Regions from separate parts of the Homo sapiens genome. Here all the other regions are linked to region 1. Evidence: fine-mapped expression QTL. A gene starts in region 1. Each other region holds a variant in brackets. All regions are shown on one strand. Distances are from middle to middle. Region 1 holds the start of CAMTA1 (calmodulin binding transcription activator 1). Region 2 holds the start of LOC105376689 (translation initiation factor IF-2). Region 3 overlaps CAMTA1 (calmodulin binding transcription activator 1). Region 4 overlaps CAMTA1 (calmodulin binding transcription activator 1).

What was found. PIP is the estimated chance that this variant, and not a neighbour inherited with it, causes the effect.
Region 2: its variant is the best candidate, but not a certain one, in a credible set for the expression of CAMTA1 in cerebellum (GTEx, PIP 0.81).
Region 3: its variant is the best candidate, but not a certain one, in a credible set for the expression of CAMTA1 in whole blood (INTERVAL, PIP 0.61).
Region 4: its variant is the best candidate, but not a certain one, in a credible set for the expression of CAMTA1 in prefrontal cortex (CommonMind, PIP 0.72).

What each region holds. Positions count from the first base shown.
Region 1 is chr1:6,780,437-6,788,541 of GRCh38, reverse strand. It overlaps CAMTA1 (calmodulin binding transcription activator 1), which reads right to left and starts at 3,088. Exons shown (of 23, transcript NM_015215.4): 1 at 2,967-3,088. The coding sequence starts at 3,011. It overlaps CAMTA1-DT (CAMTA1 divergent transcript), which reads left to right and starts at 3,562. Exons shown (of 3, transcript NR_149049.1): 1 at 3,562-3,884; 2 at 4,319-4,393; 3 at 4,497-4,650. RefSeq lists silencers at 2,336-2,515, 2,526-2,795, 3,006-3,165, 3,506-3,915, 4,046-4,105 and 1 more and enhancers at 3,371-4,045, 4,046-4,722.
Region 2 is chr1:7,703,004-7,711,108 of GRCh38, reverse strand. The region is part of intron 11 of CAMTA1 (calmodulin binding transcription activator 1); the gene reads right to left. LOC105376689 (translation initiation factor IF-2) reads left to right here and starts at 6,547. Exons shown (of 5, transcript NR_188653.1): 1 at 6,547-7,761; 2 at 7,879-7,998. RefSeq lists a silencer at 6,207-6,626. The variant A/T (reference allele first, on the strand shown) is at 3,705.
Region 3 is chr1:6,879,428-6,887,532 of GRCh38, reverse strand. The region is part of intron 3 of CAMTA1 (calmodulin binding transcription activator 1); the gene reads right to left. Among named protein-coding and RNA genes, the nearest start is that of CAMTA1, 98 kb to the right of the region's middle. The variant C/A (reference allele first, on the strand shown) is at 3,497.
Region 4 is chr1:7,720,782-7,728,886 of GRCh38, reverse strand. The region is part of intron 11 of CAMTA1 (calmodulin binding transcription activator 1); the gene reads right to left. Among named protein-coding and RNA genes, the nearest start is that of VAMP3, 46 kb to the left of the region's middle. The variant T/G (reference allele first, on the strand shown) is at 4,552.

The DNA.
Region 1 (8,105 bases):
ACAGAATACGAACAGCATAAAAACATTTAAAACCAAAAACAAGAAAATGAGCTCAAAAGCTCTACTTTCTGACATTGGGAATCAGGCCCACTGGACGACTCAATGCTAACTGAAAGGCAAAGTCCAGAAGTCACAGAACTAGCGCTGACCCAATCTCCGATGAGCCACTTCTCCTTACACAGTAAACTGAGGCAAAGCGAGCCTCTGAGCTAGAACAGTTTTAAAGGCCAAAGCCCCAGAGCCCAACGGAACTTGTTGGGGAGGATGAGTCTCCACACTAAGCCTGTCAAAGAGTAAGACTTCCCTGCTGAGTGACAGCGGCTAGCAGCCATTCTGAATTTCGTGAAAGAGGGAGAAAGGGAGGGAGGGAGGGAGGGAGGGAGACCTGAGGAGGCAAAGCACCTGACTAGAGCCGACAGGGCTCAAATCATTCCCCTGTCCAAGAGAAAAGAACTTGAAGAATAACGTTCCCCATCCTCTCATGAAGCGTCGAGGGCCTTTCCACAGGTACATTTTGCTAATTTCACAACCTCTCTCAATTATTTAAATGGCCAAAATACAAAAGGGACATATTTACGGTCATTCGTTCCTAGTTCTGTCACAGGAAAACATATTCTTCTCACCCATCTCCTGTCGTTTGTCCAAACACACGAAATCTCTTTCCCCTACACTGCAGTAAAGAAATCAAGAACTTTTCACTCTATGCAGAATCAAGCAACGAATACCACCCCTAAATTCAGACCGCCAAAGTTGCGATGCGTATGGGCAGGCACTGTACGCTTCGCACATTCAGGGACTTGGTGAACACGCAGGATGTCGTTCTGCTTATTCAGTACAGTACACATTACAAACCAAAGAATAGTCAGAATTGGCCATTTATCCGTGATTCTTCTGCTGCTGCTTCTAAGCCTGAAGAGTTACCAACAACGTTAATATCTATCTGTATCATTACACATAAAGGTCCCCATATGCACCCAAAATGTAGAGCTAGTCATCTGACCCTTCCAACTTCCTGTGCACTGTATATGTAATGAATGTGATTTCATCTGTGTATACCTACATGTATGTATATGTAAACAAATGAATATAGCATCATGATCTGGTTCTCCAAAGCAGAACCGGAACAGCAAAAAACAGAAAGCATTCAAATTCCCCCTTCTGAAAGCTACAAGATCTAAAGAAATGTCTGGATCCCACAAGAGACAACACCAGAGCCAAAGGAAGGTTCTAGTACAACAAGGAGCACACAAGCAACCTCTTCCAGGATGGCATGTGGGCGACACGGGTGTCTACACTCCCTTTTCTGAATGGAAAGGCATATGGCTTCTCCTTACCCAGCCAACATGAATACAATTTGAGAAAATTAGAAAAAGTCAAAGTAACAGGCTCACTAAATATGGCTGACTGCGAAGCAGAAGCCACAGAGGAGGATATGAGTTCTCTCAAAAAACAATCGGGAAGTTTATATCCAGGAAAGGTTCAAGGACTCTTGAGTGTGGGACGGACAAAGTCTGGTTCTCACTGCACAGAAGACAGTAATCAAAACATCAAAAAACAAGGCCACATGACCCTTTTCCCAGTGAGGTAGTGTCAACTGATGAAGGTTGCCCCCTCCTGAGACACAAGAGTCAAGTGGAGGCAAAAATATACCCCGGTCTTCCTCAGACACAGGAGCAACTAGTGTGGCCCCTTTTCACTCAAGCACTAGGCACAATGGAAGCCCTGCCCTACATCTTATTGGGGCGCCCACTCTCACCCAGACAAGGAACTCCGAGAAGAGAGAACAAGTCAGTGTAGACACACAAATGGCGAAAGGAGCACGGTGAACGTCCAGTTGTCTCCATAAGAAAAGGAGGGCAACTCAAAGGGTATTTAGGAAATGAGCTCGCCCTAACCCAGCAAAGTGTAAGAGTATGCATGATCTGGAAGAAGTGTCTGCTTTCCTATTTAGAAATGACTTCAGAGCTGCACAAGCCCCCACTATCCACTGGGTGAGGAAAGAAGAACATGGGCAGCCTGAGTCCCCTTGTCCTGGCAAAAAGGGTCAACGGAGAGTGTGCAGAGGCCCCAAAAGAATCCAAAGAAGATGAGCAGATCAGACGGACCCCTGTGCCAAGGAAGGATCGGGGTCACGGAAGGTAAAGGGCAAGGGAGTGTGGAGATCCTCACTTGCCATAGAAACGGAGACCCCACCCTCCTGGCTGTGAGGGTGCAAGGGCAAGAGTAGGATGTGAACGACTGCGAGGGGCGGGGATGCTGCGCAGGCCCCCTTCCCTTCCCGGGAAGCGAAGGGGGAGGGGTCACACGAGGCCCTTCGGCCGAGGGACGCTCGGCAGGACGGGGTCCCCCTGGCGGGGAGAAGCTCGGGGACCCCCCGCCCGCTCAGGGAGGTGTCCACGGGGCTGAAGAGGGTGCCGGAGAGAGTACATCTGGCCCTGCCCGCCGGAGAGCAGGGGGCCGGCGAGGGCTGAGCGCCGGCCGCTGCCGCCCGACGGGGACCGGCCCGGAGCAGTGGGGCGCGGGGCCAGGAGGACCCGAGGCGGATAAACTTTCCGCCCCGCGGCCCCCACCGTGGACCCAGCGCCGGGGGTGCGGGGGCCGCGCAGCGGGCTCGGGAGCGGCGGGGATGCCCGGTCCGGGTGGGGGAGGCGCCGGCCCTCCGCCGGCTCCTCCTCCTCGCTGGGCCCGGTCCCCGCCCCGCGAGCCCCCCGCCCCCTCCGGCCCCAGCCCGCCCCCGGGGGTGGGGTGTGGGGCGCCGCGCTCCGCCGGCCCCGCGAGTCACCTCAGGACTCGGCCGCGCTCCGCCCCCCCACCCCGCCGGCCCCCTCCCCGGCCGGGTCGCCCGCCCGCCCGCCCGCCGCGCCCCCGCGCTCCCGCCCGGCGCCGCCGATGCCCGGGATGTCCGGCGGGGCCGGGTCCCGCCGCCCGCCGCGCCGCCCCCCAGCCCCTCGCGCTCCGGCTCTTACCTTCCGGCTTGTTTTCGGCAGCCATTTCCCCTCCGCGCGCCACATCCTCCTCCTCCTCGCGACCGGGACCCCGAGCGCGCGCCTCGTACCGCCGCCGCCGCCGGCCCAGCCACCCCGCCGCCGCCGCGCACCCGCCCTGGCCCCGCCCCGCGGCCCACGCACAGCTCCCGTTGGGCCGTGCGGCTGCCACTCATCGCTCCCGCCGCCAATCGCCCCGCACCAGGGGTCTCACTACTCTCCGGGAGGAGCGTCCTATCCATCCGGCCCATTGGCTGGTCACCACCCAACGGACTGAAAGGATTGGTCAAGAATCAACGCCCCCTCCCCACCCACTCCCAGGAAAGCCCGCCTTCCGGACCTAAACAAAGCTTCCTAGTGGCCAGAACCCGAAAGAACTGTCCAATCAGGACGGGCCCGACACGGAATATTTCCTCGAGGCCGAGACGTGGCGTTTTGATTGGGCGTCACTACAGTGTTTCCCAGGCCGTCCAGACCAATCAAAGGGGGTTCCCGGAACTCGGGAGCGGCGAAGGGAAGCCCCGCCCCCGAGCGTGACCGTCATGAGGAAGGCGCTCCCTCATTGGCACGCTGGGGCTTTTCCCGCGTGCTCCCGGGGCTGAAGGACGTTCCCGGGGAAGCCGCTGCTGGCGCGTGGGGTCCCGGTGGCTGTGGGGGACGCGCCGGGATCTCCGGGATCCCGCAGCCCGCCGCCGCTGCCGGTGGGGAGCCGGACGCGGGGGGCCTCGGGGCTGAGGTCCGCAGGGGTGCCGCGCCCTGGAGTCCGACTGCCTAGGAGTCCGGGCGTCGCTGCCGGCCGTGGGGGAGGGGCGAGCCTCCCGCCAGGCCCCGCCCCCTCGGCGCCGCGTCCCCACGGCCCCGGCGCCGCCCGCCTGCGCCCGCCTCCTGTGCCCGCCCCCGGTGAGCTCCGTTGTCCCCTTTTCTGGCGGCTTAAAATACCGAAACTTTATTTTGGTCACGTTGCCCATGTGACCCGCGGAGCGGATGACTCATGGTTGCCTGTCCCAGGATGAGGCCGCCGGCCGAAAGCAGAGAAGCGCCAGCCCCGGCCGCCCGGGTGGAGCGCTGGGCAGCCGAGTTTCCCACCCTCCTCAATCCGGAGAGTCCGCGCGGGGCTTTTCCTAATAAATAGCCAGGCACCCGCTGCCCTCGCGCTGCGTACGGGAGCACGTGCCCCCCGGGAGGTGGGCGCCCGCCAGGTGCCCCGGGAACGAGCCTAGGAACCGGGTCCGCCGAGTGCGGCTCTCGGGGCGGCTAGGCGTGCGGGTGGCTGGGCAGCGCTCCCAGGGACCGGCCTCTCTCCGGAGAAAGTAAGGAATTCTGCTCCTGGGCAGGTAATACCGGAAACAAAAGGAGAGGCTGCAATCGCAAATTGTTTAAAAAGAAGAAAAAGGAAAGAAAAGTTGAATGTAAGAGCTCCAGCCCCTCAATGTGATCTTGTACGGTTTGCAGTAAGAACATTTCATTCTTCCGCATTTTATTTTTCCTTTTGCTACTGTTGGTGACAACTAGCAAAATAAGTGAAAAATCCTCGTTCAAGTGTTCTGGCATTAAGATTGACTGTCACACTGAATTCTGTGCCAATCCTAACAACATGTGTTCTTTTTCTGGTCTTCACAAGTAAGAATGTCTTAGGTTTTCCAGAAATAAAGATGTCCCAAAAGAATGTTTTGTGTTACACACTCATTCTTCAAGAAACTTTAATTTTATGAGCCTCAAAAATTGCAAAATTTTAACAACGGCGGGACAATATTTTATCGATTAGCATTCTTAATAGCACCTATGTTGACGATTTGTGTGGAGAAACGGATTCTTAAAAGAAGTGCTGGTGGCATTGTAAATTAGTATATTCCTTTCGAAAAGCAATTTTACAGTATGTATTAAAAGCCATAAAAATGTCTGCATCTTTTGACCCAGTGATCTTACTTCTGGGAATCTGTTCTAAGGAAATAACACTAAATGCCAGAAAAGCTGTATGTGTGAAGGTATTCTTCACAGGATCACTGTACTTAACTACAACAAAAAATTGGGAGCATCCTACATGTGCTAATATTGGGTATTTAGTAAATTGTGTTACATCTACACAGTGGAACATTATGGTAGTTGTAGACATCAGAAACAGAAAATCACCCATTGCTAGATAGAGGGGGCAATACCCAAAATTATGGTGTTCATTTATGAGGTGAGATGATAGGCTAAAAAAACTGCATTTTAAAAAAGACCGATACAGGCCGGGTGCAGTGGTTCACGCCTGTCAATCCTAGCACTTTGGGAGGCCAAGGTGGGCAGATCACTTGAAGCCAGGAGTTCGAGACCAGCCTGGCCAGCATGACAAAACCCCGTCTCCACTAAAAATATAAAAATTAGGTGGGCAAGGTGGCAGGCGCCTGAGGTCTCAGCTACTTGGAAGGCTGAGGCAAGAGAATTGCTTGAACCCAGCGGGCAGAGGTTGCAGTGAGCCAATATCGCACCACTGCACTCCAGCTTGGGTGACAAGAGCAAGACTCCACCTCAAAAAAAAAAAAAATAGACTGATAACATACACCAAATAAATGACGTATGGGGGATTATAAGTGAGTTTTTTTTAATTGCCTATTTTCTATAATATAGCTGTTTTTGTTGTTGTTTTTTGGTTTTTTTTTTGTTTTGTTTTTTTGAGATGGAGTTTCACTCTTGTTGTCCAGGCTGGAGTTCAATGGCGCAATCTCGGCTCACCGCAACCTCTGCCTCCCGGGTTCAAGCGATTCTCCTGCCTCAACCTCCAGAGTAGCTGGGATTACAGGCATGCGCCACCATGCTCAGCTAATTTTGTATTTTTAATAGAGACAGGGTTTCTCCATGTTGGTCAGGGTGGTCTCAAACTCCCAACCTCCAGTGATGCGCCTGCCTCAGCCTCCCAAAGTGCTGGGATTACAGGCATGAGCCACCACGCCTGGCCTCTATGTTACTTTTATCATTAAAACACTCATTTAAATTGAAAGAAAGGTGAATAAAGTTGAGTGTCTTCCTTCAAGAGACTCCCAACTTGGCCAGGTTCACAAACATAAGCAGCAGCAGGACAGGTGCGATGGGAACACCGGAGAAGGTCACAAACATCACCTGGGCCTCAACACCATCACCATTGAAATTACCTTAGCCTCAGGCCACAACAGTGGTTCTCAAAACAGTGGTTCTCTAGGGACCTTGGTCGAGCAGAGGGAGCCCCAAGACTCAAGGGACCCAAAAGTCAAAACTTTTTTAGACAGGGTCCTGCTCTGTCGCCCAGGCTGGAGTGCAGTAGTGCCATCAAAGCTCACTGTAGCCTCGAACTCCTGGGCTGCAGTAATCCTCCCACCTCAGCCTCCCCGGTAGCTAGAACCACAAGCATGCACCACCATGCCCAGCTAATTTTTAAGTTTTGTAGAGACAGGGTCTCACCTTGTTGCCCAGGCTGGTCTCAAACTCCTGAGCTCGAGTGATCCTCCCACCTCAGCCTCTTGAAGTGCACGGATTACAGGCATAAGCCACCACACCTGACTTCAGAACTATTTTTATAGCAATGATATGTCAATTTCTCCCAACACTGCACTCTGTGTGCAGTGTTTTCCAGAGGCTGCAAGATACGTGATCTCACAACAGGCTGAATGCAGAAGATTCAGAAGCAGAGAAGAATCCAGCAGTCTTCTACTGTCAGATATTAAAGTGATTTGCAAAACTAAAACAATCTCACACTTACCACTAATTTTATTTTAGAAAATGTAGGTATTTCTCATAAAAATAGGATTTATGTTGACATGTAATGGGTTTATTCTCTTTTTTGTTGTTCTTTTGAGATAGGGTCTCACTCTGTTGCCCAGGCTGGAGTGCCGTGCAATCAAGGCTCACTGCAGCTTTAACCTCCTGGGCTCAAGCAATTAGCCTCTTGAGTAGCTAGGAATACAGGTGGGCGCCACCATGCCCACCTGTATTTTTTGTAGAGATGAGGTTTTGCCACGTTGTCCGTGATGGTCTCCAACGGAGTCTTACTCTGTTGCCCAGGCTGGAGTGCAGTGGCACGATCTCGGCTCACTGAAACCTCTGCCTCCCGGGTTCAAGCGATTCTCCTGCCTCACCTCTTGAGTATCTGGGATTACAGGCACCCGCCACCATACCTGGCTAATTTTTGTATTTTTAGTAGAGACGGGGTTTCACCATGTTGGTCAGGCTGGTCTCAAACTCCTGACCTCGTTATCCGCTGGCGTCAGCCTCCCAAAGTGCTGGGATTACAGGCGTGAGCCACCGCGCCCAGCTTGAATCCTTAAATTTTAAGTGTGGAAAAAGATCTTGAGACTCAAGAGTTTGGGAACCACTGGGCTAGAGAATGAGATCTTTTTGGGGCTGGCTGGTTGGTGTTTCTGTTTGCTTGGGAGGGTAACCAAGAGATGGGCATTTCAAGTAAAGGAAGCAGCTTGCATTACTAAATGAGCCCATTTAGAAAAGAGAGTTGGAAGATAACGCTCGATGTACCAATCTCGGAATCCTTGCCCATTTTGGCCCTAATGTCCTTCAAGGAAAGAATTTTACTGTCCAGAAACAGAACATATAAGGGAAATAGTGGGAATATTAAATTGTTACTTTTTGACCCCAAAGAGGTGCAAAAGAGGCTTCTTCCTGGTCAGCTTTCCAAAGTAAAGTGGCTGTTTATATTACTGGTGGTGATAAAAATAAAAGTGCTTGGACTTGCTTCCTTAAATTGGAAGTTACCGAAGCTTCCATATTACTGGATTGGGAGAGGAAAGCATGGAGTAAACCCATTTCAGAAGCTTAAACACTTAGAAGCTCAGGCCGGGCACAGTGGCTCACACGTGTAATCCCAGCACTTTGGGAAGCCAAGGCGGGTGGATCACGAGGTTAGGAGTTCAAGACCAGCCTGGCCAAGATGGTGAAACCCCATCTCTAACTAAAAATAAAAATTTAGCTGGGCATGGTGGCACGCGCCTGTAATCCCAGTTACCGGGGAGGCTGAGGCAGGAGAATTGCTTAAACCTGGGAGGAGGAAGTTGCAGTGAGCCAAGATTATGCCACTGCACTCCAGCCTGGAAGACAAAGCGAGACTCCGTCTCAAAAAAATAAAAGAGAAGCTCATCATCCCAAGCTTATTTT
Region 2 (8,105 bases), 920 kb before region 1:
TTCAGCCTCCAGAACTGAGAAATAAATCTGTGTTGTTTACAGGACACCTGTCCATGGTACTTTGTTAGAGCAGCCTGAACTAAGGAACTGCACCCGGTTTAGGTGGCGCAGAGCCCAATTCTTGGCTCCAGGGGTGTATGAGCCAGGCCTTATGAATGAGAGGACCATGTCCCCTTATTCAAGAGATTAGACACGTGACTCAAGATGGGCCAATAAGAGATGAGACATTTCCTGGAACTACAGGGAAATAAGAGCTGTCTTCCTGGAGACATCTGGTAATTTGGCAGACGATAAGCCTGTAGCTCAGAGTGGGCCATCTTGCTGCTGCCATATTGGGGACCCTTCCCTGCTTGAGAATAAAATTAACATAGAGGAGGAGAGTGGGGTGGGGGCAATGGGGGAGGCCTAATGACATCATTGTACATCTAGAGCTAGTTCTAGCTGAAGATAACACTAATTCTGGACTTCCTAAGAGTCAATAAATTCTTTTTTTTTTTTTTTTTTTTTTGAGACAGGGTCTCGTTCTGTCACCCAGGCTGGAGTGCAGTGGTGTAATCGTGGCTCACCCGCAGCCTCAAACTCCTGGGCTCAAGCAATCCTCCTGCTTCAGCCTCCTGAGTAGCTGGGACTATAGGTGTGTGCCACTGTGTCCAGCTATTTGTTTTAAATTTTTTTTAAAGATGAGGTCTTGCTATGTTGCCTAGGCTAGTCTCAGACTCCTGGCTTCAAGAGATCCTCCTGCCTCGACCCCCCAACATGCTGGGATTACAGGTGTGAGCCAACACACGGCCAAGTTCCCTTTTTTATGTAAGCCAGTCTGAGGTGGAGTTTTGTCACTTGCAGCATTAGAATTTATCTACAAAACATGTGATAAATGACAGTAGCAATAAACTGTCTTGCTTATTCAAAACACTGATTCAATGTTGACTGCCAAAACATTCAGTAAGACAAGGAAAGGTATACTGAGCTCTGGCCTGGCTGGAGACTATCTGTTGAATTCATACATATGGAGGTATCTTAACTCTTTCAGGCCTTATGCGACTGCTAAATGTGGCGTCATAACAGACACATACCACAGAAAAGAATCACAGCAGAATAGCTGAATTGAAAGAGAATTAGGAAATATCCAGTCTAGTGGCTTTCAACTTTTTTAAACTGTGGTCCACAGAAAGAAATAGAAGCCAGCACACACACTCCCATATGGAAACCAAAAAGCTTCCCAAATCAATACTTACGCTTACTATGTGCAATGCACTCTGATTTTAAAATCTGATGATGGTGACCATGCTTTTCTGAACCACTAATGGGTTTGGAAAACAGGTAAGAGAGCCGGAGATACAAGGTAATTTACATAAGGTTTCTCACTGAGTGAATGGTAGAGCTGAAACACCCAGTGCCCATCCTGCTGTATTATATGAAAGAGAACAGCTGTTACCTACACACATCCCTAGACAGTGGGCTTCTGGCCAATATTCTCAGTCTGGGAAAATGATTCAGGTGTCAGGCCTATTTTACACTGGTACAGTGTCCAGGATTTTTAGGGCCACCTCAAGACCACCTAAGTGAAAACTCACATCCACCAGTTGGCTTTAGATTCACATCCACATAGATTGATTTTCGACCCTCTCACTCCTCCTTGAACTGACCTGCATGGGAAATCATTTGGAGTTTGTGCCTAAATGACCAACAAACAAGACTGAACCAAAGGCACGGAGTAGGATCACGTTTGTCTTGGGCTTGAAGAAACACATTTCATTACAGTCTCCTCACCCTATCTAATGAGTAGCATCACGCTGGATAACTTCTTTGCCAACTAACAGTATTCATGAAACTTCAAGTCCCAGATGGCATTATGCTAGGCATAGTAGAAGATACAGCTTAGGTGGGGCCCCTCTGCACCCCATAAACAGCTGTTAATCTAATCTGGGAGGGGAGAAAAAAAGCTTCATTAATAAGACTTGAGTGAGGCTCAAAGGAAAAAAGAGACAGAATTTAACATGGAGTATGGGTGACGGTAGGCACACCAGCACACCAGCACACCAGCCTGGCTGCGTGTGACAGAGGGCTCATGCTGTGTGGCTGAGGATGGGGTGTGGCCAGCTGGAGAGTGAAACATGATGTATGGGGTGGTGAAAGTCAGGTGAAACACGAAAGCTGAAAAAATGGAGAGAATGATTAATTTTTAGTAGTTGATAAATATTAGTTTAATATAATGGAGAAATTTATTTACATGACTTATCATCACCTTCCACATTACAAAAACATTATGTAGCTTTATGATCAGCACTTTAACTCCTAGAAACATTTACCCTCATTAAACTCCGTATACTTTACCTTCCTCAAAGTAATATTTAATTATTAGTTTTAATTTGCTAAGCAACTGATGTATAGTAGGTGCTTCAAAGATGAGCTGACCAGTCTCTCCACATCATGTCTAAAGCTATGCTCTATTTTCAATGTTTATAAGACAATATAAAATTAAGCAAATTACAGGGATCACGATACTTTATAAACTAAAATTCCAGTTAGTCTATCAAAGGAACTTTACTGAAATAAAGCATTACACAAGATCATACTGGCATTCTCCCCCTCCACTGTCTTTTTCTTTTTTTTGAATCAGGGTCTTGCTGTTGCCCAGGCTGCATAGCAGTGGCATGATCATGGCTCACTGCAGCCTTGAACTCCTGGGCTCAAGCAATCCTTCTGCCTTGGCCTCCCAAAGTGCAGAGATTAGAGGTGAAAGCCACCACGCCTGGCTATTCTTTGTTTTGTTTTGTTGAGATGGGGTCTCACTCTGTTGCTCAGGATGGAGTGCAATGGCACAATCACAGCTCACTGCAACCTCCACCTACCAGGCTCAGGCGATCCTCCCACCTCAGCCTCCTGAGTAGCTGGGACTGTAGGCATGCAACGCCACACCTGGCTAATTTTTGTATTTTTTGTAGAGACGGGGTTTCTCCATGTTGCCCAGGCTGGTCTTGAACTCCTAGGCTCAAGCAATCCACCTGCCTCAGCCTCCCAAAGTGCTAGAATTACAAGTGTCAGCCACCACACCTGGCCGTATTTTTAAACTTACTATTCACAAGGTATCATATCATGGTTTTAATGAGTCACTTGCTGTACTGCCTGTGGGGTGAAGAGTAACTATCTCCTGATGGCGACGGCATCTCCTTGTCTGCCTGTCATGTTAAGCCAAATGTAGTCACATAAGAGAATAGCAAAGAAAAGATGGTCATTTGACTTCAGGGCAATTCACTCAAGAAGAGGAGAAGACTCTAACTGAAGGTCTCCATGACTATGAACGCCAACATCCCCATGACATGATGTGACACTACCCATTGGTATCACCCAGCAGGCTAATAAGCACTTCTGAAATGTTAAATGTGAGTAATACTAACTTGTGGTTTTTAATGTAATTCAATACATCACATCTGGACTTCTCCCACCATCACGCCTGTGATCTCAGCACTTTGGGAGGCAAAGGCGGGTGGATCACTTGAGCTCAGGAGTTTGAGCCCAGCCTGGGCAACATGGAGAAACCTCATCTCTACAAAAAATACAACAAATTAGCCGGGCATGGTGGTGTGTACCTGTAGTCCCAGCTACCCAGGAGACTGAGGTGGGAGGATCACCTGAGCCCGGGAGGTGGAGGCTGCACTGAACCATGATCATGCCACTGCACTCCAGCCTGGGAGACAGAGTGA[A/T]ACCTGTTTCAAAAAGAGCCTCACACCTTTCACTCGGGAAACTTTCATATCAACCAATGCTTTAACTTTGCTATCTTTCTCATATTAAGTAAATAATACTCAGTTCCACTTGTTATTCACGTACTGGATTCTAGAACAGCCCCACATGAATACACTGCAGCAGTGACAGCTCTTAGTAAAGGCCCAGTTCAGTCCTAAATAGAAGACTAAAGAAAAGCCTGGGCCAGGCACGGTGGCTCACGCCTGTAATCCCATCACTTTGGGAGGCTGAGGCAGGCAGATCACAAGGTCAGGAGTTCAAGACCAGCCTGGCCAACATAGTGAAACCCCATCTCCACCAAAATACAAAAATGAGCTGGGCATGGTGGCGCGCACCTGTAGTCCCAGCTACTCGGGAGACTGAGGCAGGAGAATCACTTGAACCCGGGAGGTGCAGGTTGTGGTGAGCCGGGATCATGCCACTGCACTCCAGCCTGGGCAACAGAGCGAGACTCCGTCTCAAAAAAAAAAAAAAAAAAGAATAGCCTGAAATAATGCATCCGCCAGGGTATCACCAAAGCCAAATCCTTAAATAATACAAACAAGACTGTTATTAACGAGTACATGAAATACTGTATTTCCATTTGAGTTGTTCAGATTATAATTAATCAGGACGACCTCATCAAGGTCTCTCAGGAATACACAGCAGTTCTCTGCTTCTTTTCACTACTAGGTTAAATTTATTTAGGAAATGCATACGCTGTAAGTAAATGCTATTTTCTTGGACATTAAACATTATTACTCTCTAAATCTAATACAAAGAAAAAGAGAAACAAATTTATTTGCTAGTGTCTAATTCTGGTCTTGGAATAATAACTATTTTTTTTCTAAACACACAGCAGGAAAAGTGCTTCTGCATAATGCATTTCTCTTGATCCGGTTCCCAGCAATAGTTTCTCGATAAGACACAGATTCTGCAGGGAAACGGAACACTTCAGTTCCTCAAGGTAGTAAGAGAAAAAGACTCCTTGTATGTAATAGCCAGACATTTTATCGATAAAACTTGGGAGCACAATTTTAAAAAGTCAGGGGTTGGCCTCACTGGTGGAAAAAATATAATGCATTCATTCAAGCAACCAAACACAGGAGGCATTTCTGTAGTTATCTGAGGGCACCTCTCACGTTTACTGAGTCCGCTTCCGGGATTAGATACTTCAGGCTGCCAGCAGAAATCCTATCAAGTAAAAGTGGGCAAAATAGAAAATGGACTTTAAAATTGTCGTCCTTCCCTGGTGAGGCAACTGATTAAGAAGACAGTCTGCAAGAATATCATCATTTCAGAAATCTATTCTGATACCTGATTTGTAGAGAAATGCTTTTGATGTCTGCAGTAATCTACAGAGATCGAAAAAGTCTCAAACACCAGAACGCCATCAGCGCCACCTCTAAAGAGGCGCAATACCTAGAAACCCAATCACCAGAGCTCCGAAAATGCAAAAGGGCCACCCCGAGCATCTATCCTGGCCCATCTGCGCGTGGAAAGTGCTCTCTGGTCGCCAGTCTGCAGGGAAGCAAAGCTCTCAGAAGTTCCTCCGAGCCTTCCATCCACTTTCAGGACTGCCCTGTGCACGCGGGTGAATCGAGCGTCCCTCCGCTCCCCTGGTCTGTAGTTAGAGACAGTCCCCCGTCGCCCGATCCCGCACCCGCTGAGGAGCGCAGGGCTGTGCCCGCACCTCGCCTCGCACCTGTCTGCCCAGGGAAACCGGGAGCTCCGCGGGCCCCGCCGCGGGAAGGAGGCGGCACTGGGTCCCAAAAACCCGTGTTGAGGAGAAGCCGAGCGCCCCAACACACTCGCCGCCGGCCGGGCCGGGCCCCCGCGCGCCCCGACGCCGCCCCAGCCCCGCCCGCGCGCGCCCGACACGCTCGTCCCCGCCCTCGCTCCGACACAGACACACGCGCGCGTCCTCGCACCACTCCAGAAGCTCATCCGGCCCGCGCGCGCACCCAGACACGCGTGGCTCACACCCGCCGCACACGCCCCTCGCACAAACACGCGCGCCCCTCACGCCCTCGGCCACTCCAGACACACGGCCCCGGGCCCCACGCAGGCTCGGGCGTCGACACACCCTCGCGGCATGGACACGCGTGTCTCCCACCCACTCCTCGGCCAAACGCACCCCTCCCTGCAGCCCCTCACCCTTGCTCCTCACACTCACTCCCCACTCTCGCCCCAGAAACACGCCCCTCACACCGGGCCCGCCGGATCCCCACACTTCCCACTCGCGCCAGAAACGCGCGCACCCTCGTGGCCCCTCCCTGCCGCGCGTAAACACGCCCGGTCCGCGCACGCCCTCCCGGCCTGGCCCCGCACACTCGCGCCAGAAACACGCGTGGCCGCGCACCACGCCCCCGGCCCGCGAGCACGCGTGTCCCCACGCCCCGGCCCCGCCCCCGCCCCGCGCGCGCCCCCGCCGGCCGCCGCCCTCGACCGCACGCGCCCTCCGCCTAGCCCCGCGCCGCCGCGCACCTACCCGGACCTGCTGAGCTCGGCTCCTGCTCGTCAGGCTTGCGCCGAGCCGCCGCTCACTGGCTCCCGCGCCCCGCCCGGCCCCGCCCGGCCCGGCCCAGCCCGGCCCCGCGCCCGCTCAGCTCCACTCGCCGCAGCTGGAACGACTCGCGGGGCTCCGGGTACCGCGGTCTCCCCGCCACTGCCCGAGTGCGCCGCCCGGACCAATGGCGGGGCGCGGCGGTGAGCTCACCGGACCAGACCCCGCCCCCCAGGCCGCGTGGTCCAATCGGAGGATGCGACGTCACCCGGAGCCGGGCAGAGGCTGGTGCGGGGCGCGGAGCCGCTCGGCGCGGGGACTGCGCCGGAACTGCGCCCGAGCCGCGCTGGACGGCGGGGGCCCGGCCGGAGGTTGCGGGCGGAGCGCGGCCCGGGCGTCCCCGCGCGAGAGCCGGGCCCCCGGTCCCTCGCGACGCGGTCCCCGCCGCTCCGCCCGCCCGGCTCAGCGCGGCCCGCGAATGGGGCGGCGACGGTTCCCTCGAGGCCGGGACGGCTCGGAGCCCGACGGCTGCGCCCGCTGCCCGGGCCGACGGCCCCCGGAGCCCCGCGCGGGCCTCCCGTTCCCCTTCCCGCGGGGCCGCCCCGCGCCCGCCCTGCCTGGCTCCCCGCGCCGTCGGGGCCGCCCGAAGCTCCGCGCCGAGGGCCCGCGTTCCCGGGCTCGGGCTCCCTGCGCGGCCCCGGCGCGCCCTGCGGCGGCGGCGTCTGCAATGCAGCCGGCGGGAGGAGCCGGCGCTGCGCAACGAGCGGGGAGGCGTGGGGGCCAGGCTGGAGGGAGGGGGCCGGGGCCCGAGGACCCGGGGAGGGCCAGGGCGGGGCGGAGGACGGTGGGCGGGGACGGTGGCGGCGGCTCCGGCTTTGGGGAGGGGGTGCGGCGCTGGGCCCCCTTAGCTGGAGTGCAGGCTCCGCCCACCCTTTGGGTCTAACCTCCGCGTTCCAAAGTTCCAGCTCCAGCCCTGCGCACTTGGGGACTTCTGCGTGAGGGTCTCTCGCCCCGGCCACAAATCCCGAGCCGCACCTCTTAATCGAGGCTCAGGCGTCCCGAGCGGATCCCGCTTTCTTTTTTCCCTGTGCTGTTTGCAGTCCCACGGCCTCGCACAGAGAAAGTGCCTGACCCCAAGACCTGTGATGAGACCGCCTATTTTGTTTTTGTTATATACTAATAGATATAGATATATAGATACAGTCAATTATCTGTAAAATCGGCCATGTCTCTGCCACCTGGGTAAAAAGGTGTCTCGAAATTGGGGGCGGAGTCTCTTTTCTGACCCTACCCAAACGCACACAGAAACAACCCCAACATTTGCAGAGCCCTTAAGCCTGTACACCCAATGAGGAATCGCTGGTTAGAGGCCGCGTGAAGGACACCCTGACCAAGCTGGGTCCTGCCCATGCCGGTAGATCGTCCATGGCTTCCCTTGGGGGCTGCCACCCACTGTAAACCTGAGCAAGTTCCTCTCCTGTTCCGAAGCCTGCCCTGGCAAAGCCCCAGTACATATTCCAATCCTGCTCTAGGTCAGTATTCCCACTGCACCTGTCTACCCCTCGCCCGCCCCCCGGGTCACCACGCAGGACCCCTTGCACGCTCCCCCCACCACCTTTGCTATGCAACTCCTCCCCTTTATCTGCTAGGGAGACTCCTATGCATTCATCAAGGTCCAGCTCAAATCTGGCCACCCTCAGTGGCTTTTCCTGACGCTCTCAGCAGAACCAAACCTCCAGCTTTGTTATGTGTTGGTGTTGCAGTACACAGTGAGTGAGTTCTGTTTGTTTTCCAGGGCGGCAATGAAAGGGTAGTCATCAGGGACACATAGGCTCGGGAAACCAACCCCCCTGGGTTCAGAGTGGGCTCGTTGCTA
Region 3 (8,105 bases), 99 kb before region 1:
TAAAGTATATATTAAACACACACATACGTATACAGATGAACAGGTATGTATCTACCCCCACCCACATACTATACACATGTACATACAACCATATATGTCTGACTTCTTCGCCTATGATAATCCAAAACTGGGTCTCATACAATGGTCTTTTTGCAATCGTTACAGCATGACTTTTATTGGGTTGTAGGTTTTATCTTTAAGAGGCCACAAAACTTTTTTAAAAGATCAAATAAAAAATTAAAGGTTCAAAGAAGATCAAGGCTCAGATTCAATTAACACTAATTTTGGAAGAATTTTTTTACTTACTATGCATATTCAGCAAACTACTTAAGTTTTGGGTTTTCTTCTAACATAGCAACCCAGGGGAGTCATTATGTACAATCAACTCCCTAATTCAGATTAACATATCTAAGTACATATTGATACAACAGAACACAATGCTTGCAGAGGCTCCCTGCTAGAGACTCTCTGCTTAAGCACAGGACTAAGAAGGTGGACTTCTTAAATTCCATTTCCAGCACTTCCCATTGTTACTTCCTGGGCCAGTTTCATAGATTAGAAGAATATAATACTTCAAAGGGATACTCTGGTTTCCATGAACAAAACGACTAGCATCTCCCAATTAATGTAACATCCTAACAAGTGAAAGATGACTTCTAAAATGACCAAAATGACCAAAAATGCACAGTGAAGCTGAAGGCAAGCCCCAGATCTGTTCTTTCATTTCTCTCCCTCACTATTTTGGGGGAAGGGTCAAAAAGGGAGTGGCTGTAGATAAAACACTCCACACTGTGCTCATGAGTTTTCATGGGATGAGCTGGAAGCATGTGGTAGGGTGTGGAGGGTTCTGTCTCATTTGCTTCCCAAATTTGGGACTGATTTCCAAACAAACCTCAAATCAACTGAATATCAGCACAGCTGTTTAATTCCAGTGGACAAAATGTGAGTAAAACATCGCCTTCAGGCCTGTGCCCAATGCGCAGAGGCCAGTGACTTTCACAAGTCACAAGTACCTAGAACAGGTACTGAAAAGAGCATGCTGCGAGAAGAGCTGTGGGCTTCTTACAAGGAAAGCACGAGTGACATTTATGGCCTATTTCCCTAGTAGTTATTCAACTAAATAATTAGTTACTTAAGATATCAGCACAACAAATTGAAGATTTCAAGGCAATCAAATGTCAATTACATTTTTTTTAACATAAAATACGAGTTCCTCTGGAATCAGACAGCAGCTTCTGACTTGTTTTCCATTGCTCTTTGCACATTTGCTTTCTGCTACCAAAATTTTAAGACCTGTATAAACAAAAACAGTATTTATTCTTCTCTTCCTCCAAAACACTTATTAAGTTTACATTTTGGGCTTGAAGGTATGTTACCCCACTGTCACTTCCCCCATCCATCCACCCATAACCACGTGCAGATGGTGGGCTCAAGGAAAACAAAAATAAGGGAGGACCAGCACCCTTGCCCAAGGAGCTCCCACTTGAGTGGAGTAAAGACACCAACAGAGATAAATCACAATATGCTATGGCAAGGGCCCGCACAGGACATGGGAAGCAGTGCCCAGGGTAAGAGTGAACCAAAGGACAGGCTGTACTGAACACAGTTCCCAAGAAAAGGTGCATGGGAGGAGTGGCATGCGGGCTGCCCTCCAGGGGAAGGACTCGTGCAGAGAAGGGAACAGCAAGTAGGAACGGACAGAAAGAGTGTCCACACATCAGGGGAGGAGGAGGGGAGGCAGCAGGTGAGATGCAGCTGGGTGGGGCATGTTGCACTTCATCAGGAAGGGGTGGGTTTGGTATTTCTCTGCTTTCACCTGCATCTACATTCAGAGGTAGGAGTTTCAAGTTAATGAATACTTTATTAGTAGAGACAAGTCCAAATGACCAGAAAAAGAACCCACCAGAGCAATGGCATGCATGTGGACTCTGCAGCCTGAAGACGAGGGATGGGGGCAAAGGCTTGCCTACTGCAGACCAAATACCTGCCCTGGTTAAGGCTACGCTGGCTATGCTGGTTAAAGTTTAAGTTTCAGCAGCAAATTTCTGAAGGAATGAATGAACTGCAAGTTTAAATGTTATACTTTGGATGGTTTGAGCATTCTAATGACTCAGGTATAAATAGAAAATAATTTTTTAAATGTCAGAACTCTCATTTTCTTAATCCCCTACACACACACACTGACCTTCACTTTCAAAGAAACTAGAATTGTGTGTGTGCCAAATTAATTATACTAACAATGCCTTTAAAAAGCTAATATTTTTAAAAAAGCAAATACTTCCATAACATGTGTTGTAATTTACAAGAGGTATCATAAAATAGCTCTTCTTTTGCTGGGATTTATTCCAGTCCATTCATCATAAAGATTTCTGTGTGAGGGGTGACTCTGTAAGCAAAACACCATTTAGCAGGAAGAAAAACCTCAAAACAAATTACAAGAAAGCCATTAATGTTCTTTTAATTTCTTGCTTAATTTCCACTTCTTGGTATCCATACACTTCCTCATCAGATGGAAACATTTTAATTAGAATAAAGAGAGTTTAAGAAAATGTATGTAATGAGTAAGCTTTCATTATTACTAAAAGGCATTAACTGAGCTTTCTGTCATGTGAATACAATGGTGCGGGAAGGAGAATACTTTGTGTAAAAGATAGGAAAGCAACACAGTTAATGATAAACCAGAGTCTCTACATGCTCCTAGGAGATTTCCAAAGGTGGGATACTGACATGCTCTAGACTGCTTAGACTGCGCATTCCCAGGATTTTAGCACTACAAAATGAACAAGTAATTATTCCTTCAACACATAAGGCATCCAAGAACACAGGGTTCACAAATACTTCCTCAAAATGGGCTCGCTTCCTAACAGTGGGGTTTGTAGGATTTTTGAGGGTAATTTTTGAGAAGAATTCTTTGGTTAATTATGATACTGCAGGCAACAAACTAAAGGGAAACTGAAGTAAGCTTAAACCTGATAAAGGTACAGAATTGGGGCATCCATTAACCTCCTCCTTGGAGGCTTTCATGAGAGGCTCACATGATTAAGATGAAAAGTAACATGTATGCTGCTGAGACGCTCCTGTTTACTCTTTCAAAATATTTTACTTTTTCCTGGCCTACGAGGCTAAAAAATACCTGATATTATCAATTTTTATTCATCTTTAAAAACACATTGTGTGGATCAAAGCCAAACAAAATTGTGTGTGTGTGTGTGTGTGTGTGTGTGTGTGTGTGTGTGTGTGTCTCTAGAGAATAAGCTAAATTCTCTGCATGGTAAAAGGCTGCTAGGTTCAGCCATCGAAGCACATGACCTCTACCAACTGCCATGGTGTCCCCTCCTTCCTCTTCAGCCTTGCTCCCCTCAGAAGGAGTGAGAAATGGTTTTAGATCTACACGGCCAATCCTTCATGAACCACGACCTCCTTGTTCCTTTAAACACTTCCCCTGTGATAATCCTGGACTACACTCCATGACCATCCCATGAGCTGTCCAGTAAGG[C/A]AGCCACTGAGCACCTGAAATGTGTCTACTTCAAATTAGAAGGTAATGGAAATATAAGATATATACCAATTTCAAAGACTTCATACCAAAATAAGTAACTTCTCAATTTTTATACTTACTACATGGTCATGTAATGTAGACTTACTGGGTAAAATAAAATATATTACAATATATTATTAAAATTAGTTTCCTTTATTTTTACCTATTAAAAATATGGTTACTAGAACATTAAAAATTACACGTGACTCACTGACACTGCTACTGTACAGCAGAGCCCCTGACCTTGATGTAACCAAAACTGACCCCTCCATGATACCGATTTCAAGCCCTCTATCTACTCTTCGACTATCCCAACTCCAACAACTCCTCGATCCTATTCCTTGAATCCACTGACCCCATGACCTCTTACTGACCCTCAGCTCCTTCATGCCTCCTGGCTCCTTGCCTGGCTTAGACCACATGGTCTATCCTCAATCCTCACATCGATTCTTCTGCGCAATGCTCAACTCCCTTATGCCTCCTCCCTCCACTGTACTCACCTGGCAAAATCCTAATCCCAGGTTAAATCCAACTCCCTGCCCTCTCCTGCCCTCTCCTGCCCTACACTTAGGCTGCCGAAAGCAGAATTCCTTCAGAGCACCAGCTCAGCTCCCTATCCAGTCGTTTTTGCTTGAACCACCTGGAACTGGGCTTTTATTCTCACCATTTCACTCATACAGCTCTTATCAAAGTCACCAACGATCGCCCCGCTACCAAGCCCACAGTGAAACCCGTCTGTTTCTTGCTCCAGCTTTAGCAGCATCTGACATAGATATCACTCTGCTTTGAAACATGAGCTTCCTTGTCCGGGCGCGGTGGCTCACACCTGTAATCCCAGCATTTTGGGAGGCCAAGGCATGTGGATCACTTGAAGTCAGGGGATCGAGACCAGCCTGGCCAACCCAGCAAAACCCCATCTCTACTAAAAATAAAAAAATTGGCCAGGCATGGTGGCACACACCTGTAATCCCAGCTTGGGAGGCTGAGGCAAGAGAATCACTTGAACCCGGGAAGTGGAAATGGCAGTGAGCTGAGACCAGAGGGACATTCTGTCTCAAAAAAGCAAAGCAAAGCAAAGAGAAACATGCACTTCCAGGACACCCCCATCTCCTGTCTTCCTTCTCTGATTGCTTCTCATTCTCCTTTGCCTCCCTTCTACCCGCTTCCCCTTAACATTGGGTGTCCCAGGGCTCCATGTCTGGACTTCTCTATTGTATACACTCCCTAAAAAATTTCATCCAGTCCTACGGCTTTTAGAACCCCCTATATGCTGAAAACACTCAAAATCTAGCTCCAGCCTCAGCCTCTCCTTGAAGTTACAAACTCAAACATACGACTGCCTATTGAACATCTCCACCTGATCTTACAGTCAACAGGTGCAAAACACAACCTACATTCTCTTCACCCCTCCTCCCCAACCTGCTGTTCTCAGTCTTCCTGATCTCAGTAAAGAAGAATAGCATTCTTCCAGTTACTCAGTGCAAAAACACAGTCATCATCCCTGACTCTTCCTATATTAATACAGTCTACCAGCTCTTCCTTTCAAACATAACCCATATATGACCATTTCTTCCTGCTCTGTCCAAGGCACCATCAGTTCTTGCAACAGTCTCCTCACTGGTCTCCCTACTTCTATCCCAAACCAGGGATCAACAACTCTTTTCTGTAAAGGGCCAAACAGTATAGATCTTTCAGCCTCTACAGGCCATATGCTCCCTGTTACAACTACTTAGCTTGGCTGTTGCAGCTCAAAAGCGGCCTCAGATAATACACACAAGAGTGTGGCTCTGTTTCAATAGAACTGGAACTGGACACTGAAATTTGAATTTCATATAATTTTCATGTGAAATAAAATACTGATTTTTTTTCAACCACTTAAAAACATACAAAGCATTCTTAGCTTGCTAGCTATATAGAAACAGGCAGTGGGCCAGAACCTGCCATGGGCTGTGGTCTGCTGGCCCTGCCCTGGAAGATTCTCTGCACTACATTCAGAGTGATTATTTTATTTTATTTTACTTTTATTTTTTTGAGACAGAGTCTCACACTGTCTCCCAGGCTGGAGTGCAGTGGTGCGATCTCCACTCACTGCAACCTCTGCCTCCCAGATTCAAGCAATTCTCCTGCCTCAGCCTCCCGTATAGCTGAGATTACAGGCAACCGCCACCATGCCCAGTTAATTTTTCGTATTTTTAGTAGTGACAGGGTTTCATTATGTTGGCCAGGCTGGTCTTGAACTCCTGACCTCAAGATCCGCCCACACTGGCCTCCCGAAGTGCTGGGGTTACAGACGTGAGCCATCATGCCCAGCCCAGAATGATCCTTTCTGTCATGTCTTTTTCCTGCTCAAAAATCCTCAGGTGGCTTTCCTTCTCTTTCGGCAAAACCAAAAGACCGTGCCAAGCCCTGCGGGGCTGCACAGGACACTACTTCCTGGCTCCTCCCCTCCCGTGCCCCTTCCCACGCTCTGCACAGCAACACAGGCCTCCTTGTCATTCTCCTGGCTTCTCTCTCGCCATTGCCAAATCTATCTCTGTCTATCTCAGCGCCTTTGCTTTTGCAGTTCCCTCTGCTTGGAATACTCACTCTAGACACCTACGTGGTCACGGTGTTGCTTCCTTCAAGTGGTCACAGTGTTGCTTCCTTCAATTCACCTCATGAGAGATACCCGCTCAGTCACACTAGAATAGCATGCACAAACAGACATGCAAGAACCCTCTCACTGTGTACCTTGCTGCACTGTTCACCACACTATCACTGACATTTCTTTCCTTCTTTAGAAATAAACAGATTGGGCAGTTTTTTAAAAGAGAAACAAAATACCACAGTGATTAAGGGCATGAAATCTGGAGTCCAATGACCTGGACAGGAATGCAACAGCACCACTTACTAGCTATGTGACACTGAGCAAGTTAATTCAACTTCTCTGTATCTCGGTTTCCTTGTCTATGAAATGGGGATAATGACAGCAGCTACTTCCTCAGTATTCTGAAGAGTGAGTTAATAAATGTAATTGGCATATATAAGCACGCAATTACTGTTATTTATTTTTGTTTTTGTTTATTGTTTATTATTATTCCTCTCCCCCAACCAGAAAATAAGCTCTTCGAGGGGAATAACATGGTTTTGTTTATTGCTTCATTCTAGATACACCTAGGACAGTGCCTAGTACTCGGTATTCAATAAGTATTTATTGAACAAACAAATATTTGAATTTAAGTCACTCTGGGGTGGGCAGAACACTCCACTCCCCTCCCATGATCATACAGATATCAGACAGAACAAAAGCTTCCTTAAAATCTGTTAGAGGCCGGACATAATGGCTCAGGCCTGTAATCCCAGCACTCTGGGAGGCCAAGGCGGGCGGATCACTTGAGCTCCAGAGTTTGAGACCAGCCTGGACAATACAGTGAAACCCTGTCTCTACAAAAACACAAAAAGTTAGCTGGGCATGGTGGCATGCCCCTGTGGTCCCAGTTACTCAGGAGGCTGAGGTGGGAGGACTGCTTGAGCCCTGGAGGTGGAGGTTGCCATGAGCTAAGACCATGTTATTGCACTCCAGCCTAGGCAACAGAGTGAAACCCTGTCTCAAAAAAAAAAAAAAAAAAAAAAAACACTTTTAGAGGCTGGGCCTGGTGGCTCATGCCTGTAACCCCACACGTTGGGAGGTTGAGACAGGAGGATCATTTGAGGCCAACAGCTCGAGACCAACCTGGACACATAGTGAAACCCTGTCTATACAAGAAAAACAAAAAAGTTAGCTGGGCGTGGTGGTATGCACCTCTGGTCCCAGCTACTCCAGAGGCAAGCCTAGGCATTTGAGGTCACAGTGATGATCATCGTGCCACTGAACTCCAGGCTGGACAACAGAATAAAACCCTGTCTCTATTAAATTAAAGATAAATATAAAAAATAAATAAAATTTAAAAAAAAACCCTACTAGAGAAAGAGAAATAAAAAGCCTACCATTCCAGGTGGGTTTGCTGATGCTTCTCTATTTCCTACCCTGAAGCGAGGCATAATGCCGTTCTGAGTAACAAGTGGTTTCACTTTATAAGAAACCTCCCACAGGGCCAGGCATGGTGGCTTATACCTGTAATCCCATCACTTTGGGAGGCCAAGGCAGGAGGAACACTTGAGCCCAGGAGTTCGAGATCAGCCTGGGCAACAGAGACTCCGTCTCTACAAAGCCAAAAAAAAAAAAAAAAAATTAGGCGCAGCAGCAAAGGTAGTCCCAGCTACTCGGGAGGTTGAGGCAGGAGGCCTGCTTGGGCCTAGGAGTTCAAGGTTGCAGCAAGCCATGATTATGCCACTGCACTCCAGTGGGCGGGTTCTTCATCTGGGTGACAGAGCAAGAACCTTGTCTCAAAAAAAAAAAAAAAAAGAAAAAAGGAAAAGAAGCCTTTATAATCTAAACCTGTGTTGTATACTCAAAGGTTACATGTTCAGGTCTTGAACCAAATTAGAGAAGAAATAGATTTCATAGTCCGGTTCAAATTCCACATGTAAAATGCCAACCTAATACCTAGCAGCACAAATCTGATCTTACTGTATTTTCTAAACACAACCA
Region 4 (8,105 bases), 940 kb before region 1:
TTCTCATCCTGTGACCACCAGCAGAAAACACAAGATGACTACAGAGGTTGCGCTGGTGTCTTTACTCCAGATGCCATGCCTCTTTGTTAGAAATCTGAAATCTTGCAGATCACAGGTCTCTTCCATGTGAAGCCTAAGAAGTTGACTCTTCAGTTAGAGTTCAGTTCCAAGCAGCATGGCAGTTGCCCTTTGCAGGATATTATAAACTCCTCTGCTTATTCCTGATGCTGCTAAGCCAGACAACCATTGATCTCGGAACCTACTTGGAGATCGTTATGCATCCCATTGAAATGACTTGACTGAATTTTAAACCTCCATAGCCACAGATCTGTGATTTCTTCTGCAAGTCTACAAATCTTGCATCTGGTTAACGAGTTTTCAGCATCCATTTCACTTGTTCCAGAGCACTCTGGAACCAATCTGCAACTGAGTGGCCAAGATCAACATCCGGTGGCAGACAAAGGGGCAGAAAAGCACCAAAGGTGCTCTCTGAGCTGTGGTCAGCCTGGAGCGAGCCTGCCTGCTGCCCGTGGAGGTGGCTTTGTGCTGCAGTGTGCTGCAGTGCGGTCCCCGCATCAGCTGTCCCCTGCCCATCCCCCCGCCAAGCACGGGCACTGCAGAAACAGACCTTCCCTGACATCACTGAGTCAGGCCCTGCCCACGGCGTCACCCGGTCAACCCCTCCAACAGTCACAGTGACTCTGTGTGTGCCACAGAGGTGACCAGCTTTTGTTCCCCAGCTGCATTCCCTGTTGCTATGCCATGAGTGCATGATATTAAGCTGCTCTGAGAAGCACCTCATGAAAATACTCAGAAGCAATTATGTGCCTCTTAACAAAATCATATCATGCATAACGGCATCTCTGAGCCTCTCAATTCCAAAGGGGAAGCGAGTGATAATTAAAATAAAAAACCAATCTCAAATGCAAATGACTGAGCTGGCACCCAGGGAGTGCGGTCTGTTGCACTGTGCTATGCAAGTTCAGAGAGACTTTCTCCTCACATGTCCTTTCCTCTGCACGGGGCCAGGGCCCAGCTCTTGAGGTTGTAAGGCTTAGATGGATAAAATGATGGTCTTTACATCTCCACACTAGCAAGCCAAAAGCAACGCCTTTACGCTTGTTTTGGTTTTACAGCTTTATTAGGATAATTAAAACACTGTGAAATATTTGGCAAATTGAGAGCTGTGCATTGCTTTAACTGTATGCTGTGTGTGATTACGGGATATAGGGAATACAATTACTTAGAAGCAAAGAAGAATTTCTGATTACATTAGAGTAAATAAGTACATTTGAAAGATTCACTTATTCATGCACAAATATTCACTGGAGCACCTACTATGTATGCACCAGGCAGTAGGGAGTACTTAGAACAGCAGTGAAAATATCCTTGCCCTCTTTTGTCGACCAACAGATAATTTCTGCAGCCCGAACAAACCTGGAGTTTTAAATTAATACAAAGCAGAGGCTGGGCGCGGTGGCTCACGCCTGTAATCCCAGCACTTTGGGAGACCGAGGCAGGTGGATCACAAGATCAGGAGATCCAGACCATCCTGGCTAACACGGTGAAACCCCGTCTCTACTAAAAATACAAAAAATTAGCCGGGTGTGGTGGCGGGCGCCTGTAGTTCCAGCTACTCAGGAGGCTGAGGCAGGAGAATGGCGTGAACCCAGGAGGCGGAGCTTGCAGTGAGCCGAGATCGCGCCACTGCACTCCACCCTAGGCGACAGAGCGAGACTCTGTCTCAAAAAAAAAAAAAAAAAAATTAATACAAGGCAGAGAAAGGGGAGTAGGAATAATGCGTAGATTTAGGGAGCTGATGAGTTTGGTCCTAGTTCTTACCCATGATGCTTCAAACAAAGACAACAGGGTGAGCTTTGAGGGCTTCCAAGTGGATGTCCTTAGGACAGTCCAAGTGAAGCAGCTGAACTACTCCATCGGGAGAAAATTCTGCACAGAAGGAAAGTTACAAGTGCAAGTTTCCATGGGCACATGAGGCTCAGAGGTGGCTCAAGGCCACAGGAGGCTCCAGAGGTCCCCGCAAAGAAAGCCAGCTGCTCTAGCTCCACTTCCTGCCTGGCGGTTCTGAGATTTTTAGTTCTTATCCTGAAATATTAGGCTATATCCGTCGCACCGGAAGAACAAGTTCCTGCTTCATCACAGAACAGGCACTCTATATTTGCTGCAGCGAGTGAACTCTGGGCAAGGGTACAGAAAAGAGGTGCACAGAGGCCTGTTTCTAGTAACACAGGCTGGCCTCCTGTTGAAGACATGAGGATGACAGACGCATAACCCAGAGACAGACACCACCATCCTAAGCATTTTACCCAAGAAAATAAAAATTTACATAACATTTCTACACATACATGCTTCAGTAAAAAACAGTATAAAGAGCCACCTACTTAGAGCCTTCTAGGTATCAATACAAACCTCACAAAAGTTAGTTGCAATGATACCCTACCTTCAAGTGGGAACAATGACCAAACTTTTGTGGCCACATAGGAGGCTATAAATAAATACATATAGTTTGTATCCTGCGGGGTGTATAGGTGAATGTTAGATCCAGAACTACACTGAGCTATCAGCCATGTCCTCCCCAGCGAAACTATAAACTTTCTGAGGGCATGGAAGAGCAGGGCAGAGTAGGAAAAGGCAAAAGCAAAAAAAAATCCTTTGACAGACAAGGAAGTATCAAATGATACAAAATAAAGTGTCAACTGGGCTGAGGTTCCCCAACTCTTAACCCCTCTGGGTAAGTCCCATAACTCCTGGATCTAAAGACTCAGGCAAAGTGAGCTCTGAATGATGTCTTACTTCTGGTGCAGAACCTCTGGGTGTGAGTCTCAGCTTCCCTTCCAGTGGCAGACTCTCCGTGCGTGACCCACCTGCCTGTTCCCGGCTAGAGGCCGTGTGCTGTGAGTCTGTGTGTGACCCACCCGCCTGTTCCTGGCTGGAGGCTGTGAGTCTGTGTGTGTGACCCACCCGCCTGTTCCTGGCTGGAGGCTGTGTGCTGCCCTAGATGGCGGCTTCTGCTCATCCCAGTGACCATTCCTCTAGACCAGAGGTTCTCAAACTTTAGGAGGGCTTCTTAAGACAGACTGCTGGGCCCTATTCCCAGAGTTTTGGTCCAGTGGGTCTGAGTGAGACCCAGAGGCTGCATTGCTAACAAGGTCCCAGGCAGTTCTGATGCTTCTGGTCTAGGGCCACATTTCAAGAACCGCTGCCCTAAGACCCTGGCCTGTTTCCACAGTGAAAGAATGACTCCTCTCTCCTCCACCCAAGTGCCTGTTAAGAATGATCCCAGAACCACCTGCTCAAACAGAAGCAGAGATTCCTACCCAGCATGGGTATGTGAGGCATCACCTCATGTGAACCATGCCAGAGCCATCCGCAGTAGCTCTGTTGACAATAACTGGGTGCACATTTTCTTCTCAAGCACCCCAACTCAGACCAGGCGATACTCGAAAACGATTTAAAACCCAGCCACCTGCACTGCTGTCTGCAACGGATCAAGTACTCCTCTACCATTCCCATTGCATCTGACCTCTTTATTACTTTGTCCTTTACTCAGCTGACAACATGGGCTGTCTTTCCAGGTGTCTGTCTCCGCCTCTCGTGTTTCTCTAAAGCAGTCTATTTTCCTGAAAGGTTCCAGGGAATGAGGAAGGATACATTCACCTTCATGCAGTAGTTCCTTCCCGCTACCTTCCAGACATGCACGCGCATGTAAATCCCCGGACAAAAACTCAATCATTCTGACGGCTTTCATAGCAACCGTCCGGCTCCTGATTCATTCAAAGCTTCTCTTCATGAACCTCTTCTCCCTGTGCTCCTTTTTTGTGGAAGCAGCAGTTTCAGCCTGGGCAGCTCTGAGACAGTGCAAAGAACACTGGAGTAGAAATAAGAGCCCCAGGTTTAATCCTGTCACTGTGTGACTTTGGAAAAATGATTCCCACTTTGCACCTCAATTTTCTCATCTGTAAAATGGGGATATTTATATACATATCCCTTCTTGTTTGTGAGGATGAAATAAACTAATACATGCGATCTTTTTTTTTTTTTTTTTTTGAGAGTCTCGCTCTGTTGCCCAGGCTGGAGTGCAGTAGTGCGATCTCGGCTCACTGCAACCTCCGCCTCCTGGGTTCATGCCATTCTCCTGCCTCAGCCTCCCGAGTAGCTGGGACTACAGGCATGAGCCACCACACCTGGCTAATTTTTTGTATTGATGGAGTTTCACCATGTTAGCCAGGATGGTCTCAATCTCCTGACTTCGTGATCTGCCCACCTCAGCCTCCCAAAGTGCTAGGATTACAGGCGTGAGCCACCGCGCCCGGCCCATACATGCAATCTTTTGAAGGAATATGACTCTCTTATGCCTGAGCTAGTAGACTGGGGCCTTCTGCCCAGCCCCATCTATGGGAGCATGGTTAAAAAATTAAACATTTTTTCGAGTAATTTTAGATTTACAGATAAGTTGCAAAGATCGTAGAGTTCCCATATGCCCCTCACTCAGTTTCCTCTAACATGGTATCTTATGTAACCATGGCACAT[T/G]TGTCAAAACTAAGAAACTAGTATTGGTATATTAGAGCTATTAACTAAATTAAAGACTTGAAACCGATTTTAGCACTTTTTCCATGAATGTCCTTTTTCTGTTCCAGGATCTAACCCAGGATCCCGCATTGTGTTTAGTTTTGAAGTCTCCTTAGTGTCCTTGGATCTGTGACAGTTTCTCCATATTCCTTTACTTTTCAAGATTTTAACAGTTTTAGGCCGGGCGCAGTGGCTCGCGCCTGTAATCCCAGCACTTTGGGAGGCTGAGGCCGGTGGATCACCTGAGGTCAGGAATTTGAGACTAGCCTGGCCAACATGGTGAAACCCATCTCTACTAAAAATACAAAAATTAGCCGGGTGTGGTGGTGGGCACCTGTAATCCCAGCTACTTGGGAGATTGAGGCAGGAGAGTTACTTGAACCCAGGAGGCAGAGGTTGCAGTGAGCTGAGATCACACCACTGAACTCCAGCCTGCCAGTCTGGGTGACAGAGTGAAACTCTATCTCCAAACAAAAATTTAACAGTTTTGAAGAATACTGGTCAGGTATTTTGGAGACATCCCTCAATTTAGGTTTGCCTGGTGTTTTCTAACCCTTAGACTGGGTTCTGGGTTTTTAGGAAGAGTATCAGAGGTGAGGCACCCTGCTCATCACATACAATCAGAGGTATAATGATGTCCTGGAGAGGTCAGCCTCCATCATTTGGTTAAGGCAATGTTTGCTACATTGCTGTACTGTGAAGTTACAATTTTTCTCTTTCCGTTCTTTGGAACTAAGTCACTAAGTCCAGTCCCAACAACAAGAGGGTAACTAAGTTCCACCTCGCAGACGGGGGAGTATCTACATATATTATTTGGAGTTCTCCTGTAAGGAAGATTTGTCCTTATTTATTTATGTATTTAGTCAATCACTTATTTATATCAGTATGGACTCCTGTACATTTATTCTAAACTTTGGGTCACAATCTGATACTGTTATTTATTTTGTTGCTCCAAGTGTTCCAGCTTTGGCCATCAGGAGCTCTTTCCGGCTGACCCTTATGCCCCTCTGACGTGCCCTCATCCTTTTTTCTTCCTTTTAGCACTTCCTTCCTTTCTGGCATTACAAGATGCTCCAGATTCATCTCTCATTTCCCCTGTGCCAATCCTAGAACTGTCCATTTCTCTAAGGAGTGGAGCTTTGGTTCTTTTTATTGGAGAACGGTATTTAGAAATGAACATCTGGGTGCTGAGCGTTCATTGCTATTGAGGTATCACTGCTTCTAGGCCTTCTCGATGGGAAAGCTAGGAAATATACGTATATATGTATATATCTACCTGTATACACACTAATGTAAACATGAGTTCCTACTGATGTCTCTGTGTCTACTATAGCACTGCAGTGTTTATTAGAGCCTTCTGAGGGTATTTTTTTTTAGAGCTGCGGTCTTGCTATGTTGCCCAGACTGGTCCTGAACTCCTGGCCTCAAGCTATCCTCCTGCCTGCCTCAGCCTTCCAAAGTGCTGCAATTACAGGCATGAGCCACCATGCCCAGCTGGCATTTTAAAAATAGATCAAATGATGATGAAAGTAACTGTGTGTGTTACCTAGCTGTAATAAACCGATAAATGAAATGCTGAAAAGAAACCTTATTGATATATTAAACTAAAAAAAAAAGAGACCTTCAGGTTTAACTCCTGTATCTCAAAAGTATAAGCATAGGTTATAGTATAGTAGTATATTCATTTACCTTATTATACTTCAATTCTTAGTTTCCAACAATATTAGAAAGCATAAGTATAAATAGAAATAGACTCATAATCCCAGAATAGCTTTGAGTATTACAACGATCAAGAAGAAGATGAAAAAACTCTTCCAAACAATGGCCCAAGGGTCAAGGAATGGTTAGTTGGGGCTTCAGATTCCCTTTTCTTTTGCTGGGTCGACCCCATCCTAGCCTCTCCATCACAGCTGTTCCACGAAGTGTCACACAGCACAGTCATGGGACATCTTTTCCTCTTTCTCTGACAGGGGTTCCTAACCTTCAAAGGGACTCACTTTAAAATGTCCCAAATTAATATTCATTTAAATGTTTAAAATTCCTTAGCAATGTTTTAAAGACAGAGACAATTTCATGAAATCAGACACCCACAGTGTGTTCTAAGTTTAGAAGGGCTGGGATTTGCTGCTGTAAAAGTGGAGAATCCCGAGTGTCTGGGCGTCTGCTGTGAGTGAGAAAGTGTCTATGCCAGGAAACCAGCTCCTAGCCAGATTTCCCAGGCCCTCAGGCCCCAGCAGCACCTACTGCTTCCTCTGGATTTTACACAACTCACTTTCAATCTTCAAATCTAATCAATTTTCCTGGTTGTACTGAGCAATACACCAGGAGATGGTTCCTGATATTTTATCAGATAATTTAGTTTAAAAAATTAAGTCCCTCCTCTGTCTGGGCGTGGTGGCTCACACTTGTAATCCCAACACTGTGGGAGGCTGAGGTGGGCGGATCACCTGAGGTCGGGAGTTCAAGACCAGCCTGGCCAACATGGCGAAACCCCATCTCTAATAAAAATACACTGCACTCCAGCCTGGGCGATGGAGTGAGACTCTGTCTCAAAAAAATAAATAAATAAAAATAAGGTAAAATAAATCCCTCCTCCTGAACATACAAAATAAAATGTAAACTCTTTGTTGTGACACAGAATGGACTGTTCTTTACCAACCATCCCAGGCTACGTTTCTAGGGTTCTCTCATAACTCAATGTTCTCCAAAATTCCTGGCTCACGACCAGGAATTTTACTTACCTCTGGGCCTCTGCCGAGGCCAACCTTTCTCCTCATCCACCTGGTGAACTTCTTAACTCTTCAGAGTGTGGCTCAGACATCACTCCAATATTATTAATAATAATAATAGCAGCTACTGGACATCTACAGTAAGCCAGACATTTTACATGGATTATGTCTAATCCTCAAAATGACTCTGAAATAAAGATTTTCCCCTTCATTTTCGGATGAGGAAGCTGATGCTAAGAAAATTTGTTACTTACCCAAGAGCATACCACTTGTAAGTATCAGGGCAGAGATTTGAACACAGACTGGACTCCAGACCAGTGTTCTTTCTGCTATGCCTGGTAAACCTTCCACATTTTGCCCTGGGTCCTAACAGTACTGAGCCAATGAAGGGATAGTTCTTTTCCTAGGTGTCATTCCTGCTAGAGGCTAGAATGTGAGCTTTTTGAAAGCAGGGACCTTGTCTTGTATCCCTAGCACCATTCAGAAAGTGAGTGCATGTGGAAAGGATTATTTTCTAATTTAAGCTCCTGGGAGCCTATTTATTGATGAGGTCATCCAAACTCTGGGGCAAGAACCCTGAGCAGCCTCCGCTCCCCAGGTGCAGTCCAGGTGGCTCATATACCAGTGAGCAGCTTTATCACCTGTCCAGGGGCAAGAGAGGATGGTCAAAGTGATCCAAGGCCAGCAGAGCTGACTTGGAAAGCAAGTGTCTGCCCGGCTGGCTGCCATCTGCTTTAAGCTCAGGGAAGGAAACCACGCAGCTACAGTGAAGACTCTGGAAGCAAG